Linked DNA regions of Homo sapiens: region 1 is linked to region 2. The links come from fine-mapping of genetic effects on gene expression. A gene starts in region 2. The other region holds a variant in brackets. All regions are shown on one strand. Distances are between the middles of the regions. Region 1 has its middle 35 kb from the start of FZD2. Region 2 holds the start of HEXIM1 (HEXIM P-TEFb complex subunit 1).

The links. PIP is the estimated chance that this variant, and not a neighbour inherited with it, causes the effect. A credible set is the group of variants that fine-mapping cannot tell apart.
Region 1: its variant is the best candidate, but not a certain one, in a credible set for the expression of HEXIM1 in whole blood (TOPMed, PIP 0.71).

Annotation. Positions count from the first base shown.
Region 1 is chr17:44,589,521-44,594,753 of GRCh38, reverse strand. No RefSeq gene overlaps it. Among named protein-coding and RNA genes, the nearest start is that of FZD2, 35 kb to the right of the region's middle. The variant C/T (reference allele first, on the strand shown) is at 2,928.
Region 2 is chr17:45,145,482-45,150,675 of GRCh38, reverse strand. It overlaps HEXIM1 (HEXIM P-TEFb complex subunit 1), which reads right to left and starts at 2,201. Exons shown (of 1, transcript NM_006460.3): 1 at 1-2,201. The coding sequence starts at 1,485. The coding sequence ends at 406. It overlaps HEXIM2-AS1 (HEXIM2 antisense RNA 1), which reads left to right. Exons shown (of 3, transcript NR_186789.1): 3 at 1-1,014. RefSeq lists enhancers at 813-872, 543-1,098, 1,503-1,612, 1,663-1,712, 1,763-1,812 and 2 more.

The sequences.
Region 1 (5,233 bases), 560 kb after region 2:
CTGAGGTGGGCAGATTGCCTGAGGTTGGGAGTTTGAGACCAGCCTGGCCAGCATGGTGAAACCCTGTCTCTACTAAAAATACAAAAATTAGCCAGACGTGGTGGCAGTTGCCTGTAATCCCAGTTACTCGGGAAGCTGAGGCAGGAGAATCACTTGAACCCAGAAGGTGGAGGTTGCAGTGAGCTGAGATCGCGCCATTGTACTCCAGCCTGGGCAACAGAGAGAGACTTTGTCTCAAAAAAAAAAAAAAAAGGTGGCCACTGGTACACCAGGAGTTCCCTTTGTCTGGGGACATTGACAAAGCAAGGGGGCAAGAAGGGCATAGCCCAGGAAGATGATAGGAGTAAAAATCAGAGGCAGATGAGGTGGTAGGGGGAGGGTAGAAAGGTTGAGGGGAGTCCGGAGACCCCCTCTGACTCCTAGGAACGTTCGGGAAAGTGAACGTCAGTCCAGAAGGAGTCTGTCCCTGTAGATCATGGTTGTAAGCTTTTTGTAAGCCAGGTTGTAACCTGGCCCTGTTACACATACACATCCTCATCCCTTCCTCGCTCTCTCTCCCTCCTTCTTTCCCTGTGTCTCTTTCCTTCATTCGTTCTTGTTCTAGACAATGGCTGAGACCTAGAGTTGGCTTCTTCATCTACCGGTTTTTCCTGGGGAGACTCCTAGGAGCTCTACCTCCACCCAAACCATGAGCCGCACCTCCTCACTGTCAGCCCCATCTGCCTCAACTTGAACAGAGCATCCCCTCTTCTCTGTGTGTTCCCCTGTGCTAGGCACTGAGGAACAAGTTGCAGGAAGGAAGGGACCTGCTGGAACCTGCAAACTCAGAGGCAAAAAGGTGCAGATTCCAGAGCCAAATGGAAATTCCAATAGCCCAAGTAGGCATCCAGCTAATCAGAGTGAAAGAAGAGGAAGAAAAGGCCCTTCTGAAGGAGGGGCATGCAGGTGAAGGAGCTGGGACCTGGCCCAGGCATAGAGGGCTAAGCTGATGCTGGAGATGGAGAGCTGTTTGCTTGGAGTGAGCTCATAGGTTCTAAGATGAGGGCTGGGATGGGAGGGCAGGGGGTGGCATGGCCTTGACCCCTGGGAGCCCAGACTAAAATGTCTGGCATACAATTGAAGGGAATAGAAGCTCCTCTCTGGGGCCTTGGGCAGGGAAGAAGGCAGCCTCCCTTTCTGTGCACCTATGCCCCAGGTAGAGGCAGGCATGGGGGAGATAGTATCCTGGGGGCAGTTGTCATGGAAATTGTCCCTCTACCCGCCTAACCTGGTGTCTCTGAAACCCAAGGGCCTCCAAAGCCCCTCCTGCCCCACCCCATGCAGCCAGTGACAACAGAACCATCTCTGAAATAAACACCATATAAGAACAGCAATCCCCAGAAACTCCAAAGGGGCTTTGATGTTGGGGCCAAGGATTTCGACTAAACAAGCTGGAAGCGATTTAGGCCAGGAAGGCTGCAGCGGTGCTGTAGCAGCTGCCCTGGGGAACTGAGTCAGATCGCCAGAAGCAGGGAGGGTCGCTACCCCCACCCTACCCTCCCCAACCCACCACTCTGGGCTCTCAGAGACCCATCTGGAGAGGCAAGGGCATGGGTAACTCCGTCGTGATTCTTCCTCCTGCCAGGGGGACTGGACCATCTGAGGACACCGTGTCTCCCAGCCAATGCCAGGCTACGAAGCAGATGAGTGGGCAAGCAGGCCACTGCTGTGTCCTCTCCTCCCCTCCACTCTCAAGCCCCCAGAACACAAATCTATCCCCCTCCATGTCTGCCATGCCTTCTCCTCCCTATCCAGTCCTCACTGGAAATTTCTTTATGAGGAACAGCTAATCTGGGGAGTAAATCTTGCCCCAGTCCAAAAAGTCCTCAGCCCCATAACAGCCACCGCTGCACTGGCACTGGGAATGGTCTGCCCCAACTAAAGAGTGAGAAGAACTTCAACCTCTTTCCTTCCTTCCTTTTTTCCTTCCTTCCTTTCCTTCCTTCTTTCCTTCCGTCCCTCCTTCCTTCCTTCTTCCCTCCCTACCTCCCTGTGTCCTCTGTCTTTTTTCCTCTCTCTCTCTTTTGCTCTCTCACCCTATCGCCCAGGCTGGAGTAGTGCGATCATGGCTCACTGCAGCCTCAACCTCCCAGGCTCAAATGATCCTCCCACCTCAGCCTCCCGAGTAGCTGGGACTGCAGGTGTACACCATCATGTCCTGCTAATTTTTAATTTTTTTTTAGAGATTTGGTCTCGCTATGTTGTCCAGGCTGGAGAACTTCAATGTTTGAAGCATCGATTCCCTCCCTAGAGAGTGGATTCTGTGAGGGCAGGGACTATGTCTCGTTCACCTCTGTGTCCCTCATATCTAGCGTAGTGCCTGAGCAGATAGGTATTCAATACATGGGGGCCAGGCACAGTGGCTCACACCTGTAATCCCAGCACTTTGGGAGGCCAAGGCAGTCCATTGCTTGAGCTCAGGAGTTCGAGACCAGCCTGGGCAACATGGCAAAACCTCGTCTCTACAAAAAAAAAAAAAAAAAAAAATTAGCCGGGCGTAGCGGCGCACGCATGTAGTGTCAGCTATTCAGGAGGCTGAGGTAGGAGAATTGTTTGAGCCTGGGAGGTGGAGGCTGCAGTGAGTCAAGATCATATCATTGTACTCCAGCCTGGGTAACAGAGCCAGACCCTGTCTCAAAAAAAAAAAAAAAAAAGTATTCAATACACATTTGTTGGATGAACAAATGAACTATCACCATGAAGGGTTAAAGTCCTTACTCATCTATCATAAGCCTCAGTTTCCTCTGCAAAAAGGTAATAACAAGCTTATAAGTGATTTTACACACACACACACAGATACAAAAACACATGTAAAGTACCCAGCTGGAGTCTGATGTGCTGCAGGTACACCATGGCTAGCTGTGGTTGTTGTTATGAGAAGACTACTT[C/T]CTAACTGGTCTGCATGTCATTTATAGCAAAATTCGCATTAGTGAATGTGCACGTAGGCCTTTAGAAGAAAGGGGCTTGATTCTTCTTCCAGGGTAGAGATTCAGGCAGGAAGGCAATAGGAGCCCCTCCCCTGCCCAACCTTCAGGGGTAGAGGCAGCTAAACCGTTGTGGAAGCGCGTGTTGCCTTTTTCCATCAGAGAGATGGGGGGAAACTGGGGCCTTGTCTGTACCTCCTAAAAGAGCCCCTCTGCCCTGCAGGTCCCCTTCACCCTTGGCTGTCTGCTCTCAAGGCACTCTGGCTGCTTTCTACCCCTCATGTTATCTCCCCGAAGGCCATCTGCCTTCCTTCCTTTTTAAAAAAAAATCTTAATTATTGTATTACATTTAATCACCAAGTCGTGAGTAATAAGATCCTGAAAGGACTGGTGGGGACTCTCCAAGCCAGACTGAATCTCACAAAGGAAAAAAAATTAAACAAAACAAGGGAGCCACTCACAGAGCCCCAGACACACACTTACATACTTTCTCACACATACACATACACGCGGAGTCTTAAACACTAAAGATGTACAAGGAGCACAGGTACCAAACACACATGCACACACTAGACACAATACACAAACACACATGAACACACTAGACACAATACACACAAACACATGCACACAGTAGACACGATACACACAAACACACATGCACACACTAGACACAATACACAAACACACATGAACACACTAGACACAATACAAACACACATGAACACTAGACACAATACACACACTAGACACAATACAAACACATGTGAACACACTAGACACAATACACACAAACACATGCACACACTAGACACAATACACACAAACACACATGCACACACTAGACACAATACACAAACACATGCACACACTAGACACAATACATACAAACACACATGAACACACTAGACACAATACACACACATGCACACTAGACACAATACACACACATGCACACACTAGACAATACACAAACACACATGAACACACTAGACACAATACACACACACTAGACAATACAAACACGTGAACACACTAGACACAATACACACAAACACATGCACACACTAGACACAATACACAAACACACATGAACACACTAGACACAATACACACAAACACACATGCACACTAGACACAATACAAACACACATGAACACACTAGACACAATACAAACACACATGCACACACTAGACACCATACAAACACACATGCACACACTAGACATAATACATACAAACACACATGCACACACTAGACATAATACAAACACACATGCACACACTAGACATAATACATACACACATGCACACACTAGACACGGTATACACAAACACACATGCACACACTAGACAATACACAAACACACATGAACACACTAGACACAGTACACACACACATGCACACACTAGACAATACACAAACACACATGAACACACTAGACACAACATATACAAACACATGCACACACTAGACACAATACACAAACACACATGAACACACTAGACACAATACATACAAACACACATGCACACACTAGACACAATACACACACATGCACACACTAGACACAATACACAAACACACATGAACACACTAGACACAATACATACAAACGCACATGCACACACTAGACACAATACACACATGAACACACTAGATACAATACACACAAACACACATGCACACACTAGACACAATACACTATTTCCAATACAAGTATCTGCACACACACACAGATACACATATAGCTAATAAAAAACCCCAACCAAGCAGTGTGCACTCACACACACGAACTTACAGGAGGCCTGACGACTGTATTTCAAACTTCACCTCCCAACCCAAGTCCAAAATCTGTCTCCAATTATCTGGCCCGTGTTGAGAGCAACAGGAAATCCAGAGCTGCCTCTGTCTTCTGCGGGAGATGGCGGGATTTCAGTCATCTCTCCATCGTAGAAAAACAAAAGCCTTCTGGCCTTGCCTCCCTCTCCCTGCCTCTAAGTCAGCTGGGGCTAGGAGGGTGTGGGTGGGAGGGGTAGGCAGGATAGGGGAAGAGAGGTGTCAAACCAAGCCTAGGAACAGCATGAGGAGCCTGGGAAGCCTGAGTCCTGAGCATGAGTCTTTCCGCCTTCCCTCAGAACACTGAACAGGGCACTTGTGTGGGTCAAGGATGGGGCAGACAGTGGGGACTTGGAGACTCAGTAATGACTCTAGACACCAGCCTCATAAGTGACCAAGCAGCATAGCAGAATAACCACTAGACTTACGT
Region 2 (5,194 bases):
TCTAGAAATCACACTGAAACTATGTTACATTTACAAATATTAAATTTATTATAACTAAAATGAATTTAATTGTTCTCAGATTTGGCCACCTTATAGCTCCGTTTAAGGAGGGGATTTGTTAAAAACAAAAATGCATTATAACTTGGTCAAATTACTTTCACATTAAGGAAAAAAACTTCTAAAAAGGAAAACAAGAAAAGCAACTCTTCAGTTTCACATAATTAAAAGAACAGGAGAAAGCACGCAAGCTACATATAGCTAAATTTACGAAACCAAAGCCAGGGGGATTTCTCTTCTGATTATGTGTCATAAAAAGGTCCACTGTCTTATATACACATGTATATAATGTTACATTCCATCACTGTAAAAAGTCCCCTTTGCCCCCTCCCCCAAAAAAGTTTCAGTCTAGTCTCCAAACTTGGAAAGCGGCGCTCGCTCCTGCTGCCGGTGCAGTTCGTTCTCGGTCAGCAGCTGGAGGTTCTCGGCGCGCAGCCGGTCCAGCTCCAGCTCCAGCTCCCGCACACGCGCGTCGTCGCCACCCAGCCGCTTGCTCTCCAGCCGCAGCCGGTTGTTCTCGTCCTCCATGCGCGAGAGGCACTTCTCCAGTTCCAGGTACTCCTTGATGAGCTCCTGCTTGCTCATGTTCTGCAGGCTCTCCGTGTGGTACCGCTCGTACGTCTCCGAGAAGTCCCGCTGCAGAAACTCGCTGCCGTCCCCTCCCATCCCATCGCTGCCCCCATCCTCCTCACCCCCTTCTTCCATGAAGTCGTCATCGCTGGTGTCGTCGGATTTGGCGGCGGCCCGCTTGGAGTACAGGCCGGTTTTGAGATCCGGCTCCTCCTGGTCGTGATCATCCATGAGGAACTGCGTGGTGTTATAGGGCGCGACCGGCTGGCCCTTGGCGAACATCTCGGCTCGGATCCTTGAAGCTCGAAGGCTCTGTTTCTCGTCGAACTTTTTCTTCTCTTCCCAGGTCAGCTTGTAGTACGGTTTCCAATGCCGCTTCTTCTTGGACGGGCGTCTCCTATGTTTTTTCTTCCCCAGCTGTCTCTGCTGCTGTCCCCACTCCTCTTCGCCCCCTGCGGCAGGAGCCCCCAACTTACTGGCCTCGGAGTCATGACAAGGCTGGGCGAGCAGCTCGGCCTCGGGCGTCGGTTCCACTTCTGCCGGCGGCGGGAAGTCGCCGCCAGCGGACGAGTCGTCCCCATTCTGGCCCTTCTCGCCCTCTCTCAGGCAGCTAGATTCTGGACAGGCCTGGGTCTGCAAGGGAGGTGGTTGGGATTCCAGGCTCCCTTCCCCCTCCGGCCCCGGACGGCCACCCAACTGGGGGAACGCTCTCGATTGCCACCTACTGTCCTCCTCGGGCACCCGCTCCTCCGCGCCTGGGGGGCGCTCAGGGTTCAGCTCTTCCTGGACAGCAGCAGCACCTGTACAGTTGCTAGTTTGAGGCTGGTGTTGATATTCTGACAAGAATGGCTCGGCCATGGCTAGTAGAGTCCTCGAAGTTTAAGAAATTTTGGCTAGTAAGTCCTTAAGGAAAAAAATGGGTTTTTCTTAAAAAAAAGAAAAAGAAAAAAAAAACAGTCCAACAGAGTCCTCTTCAGTTTGTAATTCCTGCAGTGACGCCTTTAGCTAGTCCTTCTATCAGCAAACTCCAACTGCAATCTGGGGAGCTCAAGTCAGTAAAGGGTTAAGCGCCCACAGTGCGGCCAGCTAGCGGGTCCAAGGGGGTGCAGCGGCAGGAACAGTACGTAATGGGCGGAGGTGGGCCTCAAACCTCCAAGCGGAGCACCCCAATAAAGGAGTTGGTGAGCAAGGTGATGAGGGTAAGTCCAGTGCGTGAAACCCAGCCCCGAAGGGGTTAAAACTACCGATGACGCTGCCTCCGAGGGGCCAGATCCACAAAGGGTTAAATCCCCTGCCGCAGAGCCCACAAGGGGTTAAAGTCCCGGCGCCACCTCCTCCCACTTCCACGGGTGTCGCTTCCACCCAAGCTCCCAGTTCCCTAGGCCCGGCCGTAGCCTCAGCAGAGGACAGACAAACTCATCTCCCCTTTGGCTCGATGCTCTGCTCTGCTCAGTTCTCCTCCGCCTCCTCCTCTTTTCCTCCCTCCCTCCTCCCCCTTCCCACAGCTCCTCTTCCGCGTCCTCCCCCGACTTTCCCTCCCAACCTGCCTCTCCACCTGCCAACTTCCAACTGCTGTCTCCCAGTCCTCTGCGCCCCTTTTATATAGAAGCTTTTTCGCCCCGCCCGTGCGCATGCGTAACGGAGTTCCCTTTGCGGGGCGCCGGGAGTCGTAGTTCTTATCTTTCGGGCCCGCCGCCCTCGCGCGCCGTGCGACGTAGCCAATCCCAGGACGCGTAGGGGGCGTCTCCCTGGCCGCCACCTTCCATCGCTTAGACCTCGCTAAAGAAACGCGAGCGGCCATTGGTGAAAAATCACACGACTCGCTGAGGAAGGACGGCCAATCGCAGAGAAGATGGGGCGGGTTCTGGACCGTACCATTCTGTTTCAGGAATACGAGAAGATTCGATGGCCTATGAGAGTCCTCACAGAATATTTTTATGAAAAGGTGCGTTATAAAGGCTATTATCGTATTTTGTTCTCAGCGGAGGGGTTCCGAAGGTTATGAACCTTTATTAACTAACGCAAGAATGGTTTATTCCTAAAAAGTAGTCCCTAAAATGTAAAAGAATTAAATCCTATAAAGAGAGACGTCGGCCCACGGCTGCTAACTCGCGAGTCTTAAGATTATAGAAATGGCTTCAAGGCGGGTGGTGAGTGCCTGAGACTGACACTTGCGGAAGGATATCGCGAGCACATTTTGTAAAGACCGAAGAGCGCATGAAGAAGTAAACAAATGAAGAATAAAAAGTGCCGCCTTAAAGGGACAGTGTGACTGCGTTTAGCGCCGCAGGCTCGCACTAGGCCTCGGAAGACGAAGAGGCGGGTTCGAGTCCCGGTGACGCGACTCCCGGACTGACCTCGGTACCCTTAGCTGAAGGTGGCGGAGTCCCAGCCCCAGCCTGGTCTCAGAAAGCCGCCCCCGCCCCAGGGGCAAATGCAAACTGGTGATTCGCGACCAAGGCTCTTCCCTGGGCCGAGATCGGAAAGCCGGGGCCGGGGGCGGGCGGGGGAGTGGAGGGGGAAGCGGGGGAAGGCCACGCCCCCACGCCTCAGCTTCTGTCGAAGAAAATGGCCTCCTGGGGCCGATTTGGTCTTTTCACTTCCGACCGAGATCATTTCCTGAGCCGGGACAGAGGAGGTCCGGGACAGCCATGAGGCTGTTTGTTGGGAAGAGTTCGGAATGATTAATGAGTTGAAATCATCAGCCCTGGCTATCCGAGAGGGAAGCAGGTCTCACCCGCAGAGGCCCTTCCTCATCAGTGGGCGCTGGGCAAGACTGGGAGGGAAGCATGGAGGAGGCCTTGCTCCGAAACTTGCTGCAGGGGATTCTGGCGCAGGGCTGGGGGGGCCGATTCCCCCGGGGGCGTAGTTTCTCAGAGAGAAATTCTCTAGACCCAAGCCCCCAGCCCTCCATAAACAGGGACTGAGAGGACCCAGAGAACCCTCCATACCAGTCACTGAGGCCTAAAATCTTGGCGCCCTTTCCACTTCTCCTTCGCCACACACCCAGTGACCCTTTCTTCTTATTGCTTCCTTAATAGCATCCCTGACATTCCAGCACGTTTGCACTGTGTACCTTTTACGCACAGAGCCATGTGACCTCACCACAGCCTGGCAAGTTAGACACGATAGGAATGAGTGTCTCCATTTTACAGATAAGGCATCTCTAAGACACTGGAAAATAAGTGACTTGTCCAAGGTCACATGACAACCATGGGGCAGTTCTGGCTAGAGCGCTGGTCTTTGTGACCCCCCCCGTGCCATTTTTCTTTCTGTCACAAACACAAAACCCATTTTTTCTTAAAATCGGGGAATACTCTGGATTTCGTTCTTTTTATTCCCAACAACTTCAACCTTATTCAGCCCCTATATCACTTGGCAAACAGGAGGGTACAAAGAGGGGTGGGATGCCATTCTTGCCTTCAAGTTGCTCCTGGACTGTGGAGAGGCCATCAGACCACAGCCAGCCTAAATGGCAAGTGAGGGAAATCCTGGTGGGAGCTGATGAGCCGAGTGCATGGGAGCTGGGAATTATGGACAAGTGTCAGGAGCAAGTGACTTCCTGGCTGGCTCTGAAGGATGAAGAGCTTTCAGGCAAAGTGGCACGAAGAGGGGCATTTTAGGAAGCCCAAGCATCATGTGCCAGGAAAGGGCTAGTCTGGGACTTCGGTGGCTCTGGGCAGTGTGAGATATCGGGGGTGGGGGCCAGTGGTGATGGGCATGGCCAATGTAGATGCCTCTAAGGGGAGCCGCAAGCACGCGGGCCTCTGGGCACAGCTATATGTTCTGAAAATGAACACCTTCATTTGTTTTCTCTGGGCTTCCAAGAATTCGGGTCCACCTGAAAAGTTCGCCACTCCGTGTGGCTTCATCCCTTAGGAGGCTTCCTGAGAGCAAGAACTGCCCCTCAGAGCACTCCTGGAGGAAAAAGGGATTTTGCAGATAACTTGGTTATCACAGAGAGTTATCACAGAGACCTCCAAATTGTTACCCCATCTTCAGACTCCAGAGGATTCTGGGGTACCCCCAGTCAGGGCATTTGGAAGGCACTGCTGAGCCTAGCCTCAGTGTCCTGGACTGGGCTCCACTGTATGGTCTCGTGTTCTATTGGGGGAGAGGTGGACTGACGAATAGGTTGTGGAATTCTAGAATTCTGTCAAGGGGCCAGGCAACCTTACTGTTAGCTGGGTTCTAACCCTTTGCCAGGCATTTAACATGCCCCATCACTGGTAAACCCCAGGACTGCCTTATGAAAAAGAGATCAACTCTATTTCACAAAAGAGGCCACCCAAGGCCAGAGCAGTTAAGAATCTTCCCCAAGGGGGCCGGGCGCGGTGGCTCACGCCTGTAATCCTAGCACTTTGGGAGGCCGAGGTGGGCGGATCACGAGGTCAGGAGATCGAGACCATCCTGGCTAACATGGTGAAACCCCATCTCTACTAAAAATACAAAAAATTAGCCGGGCGTGGTGGCCCCCGCCTGTAGTCCCAGCTACTTCCGGGAGGCTGAGGCAGGAGAATCGCTTGAATCTGGGAGGCGGAGGTTGCAATGAGCCGAGATCGCGCCA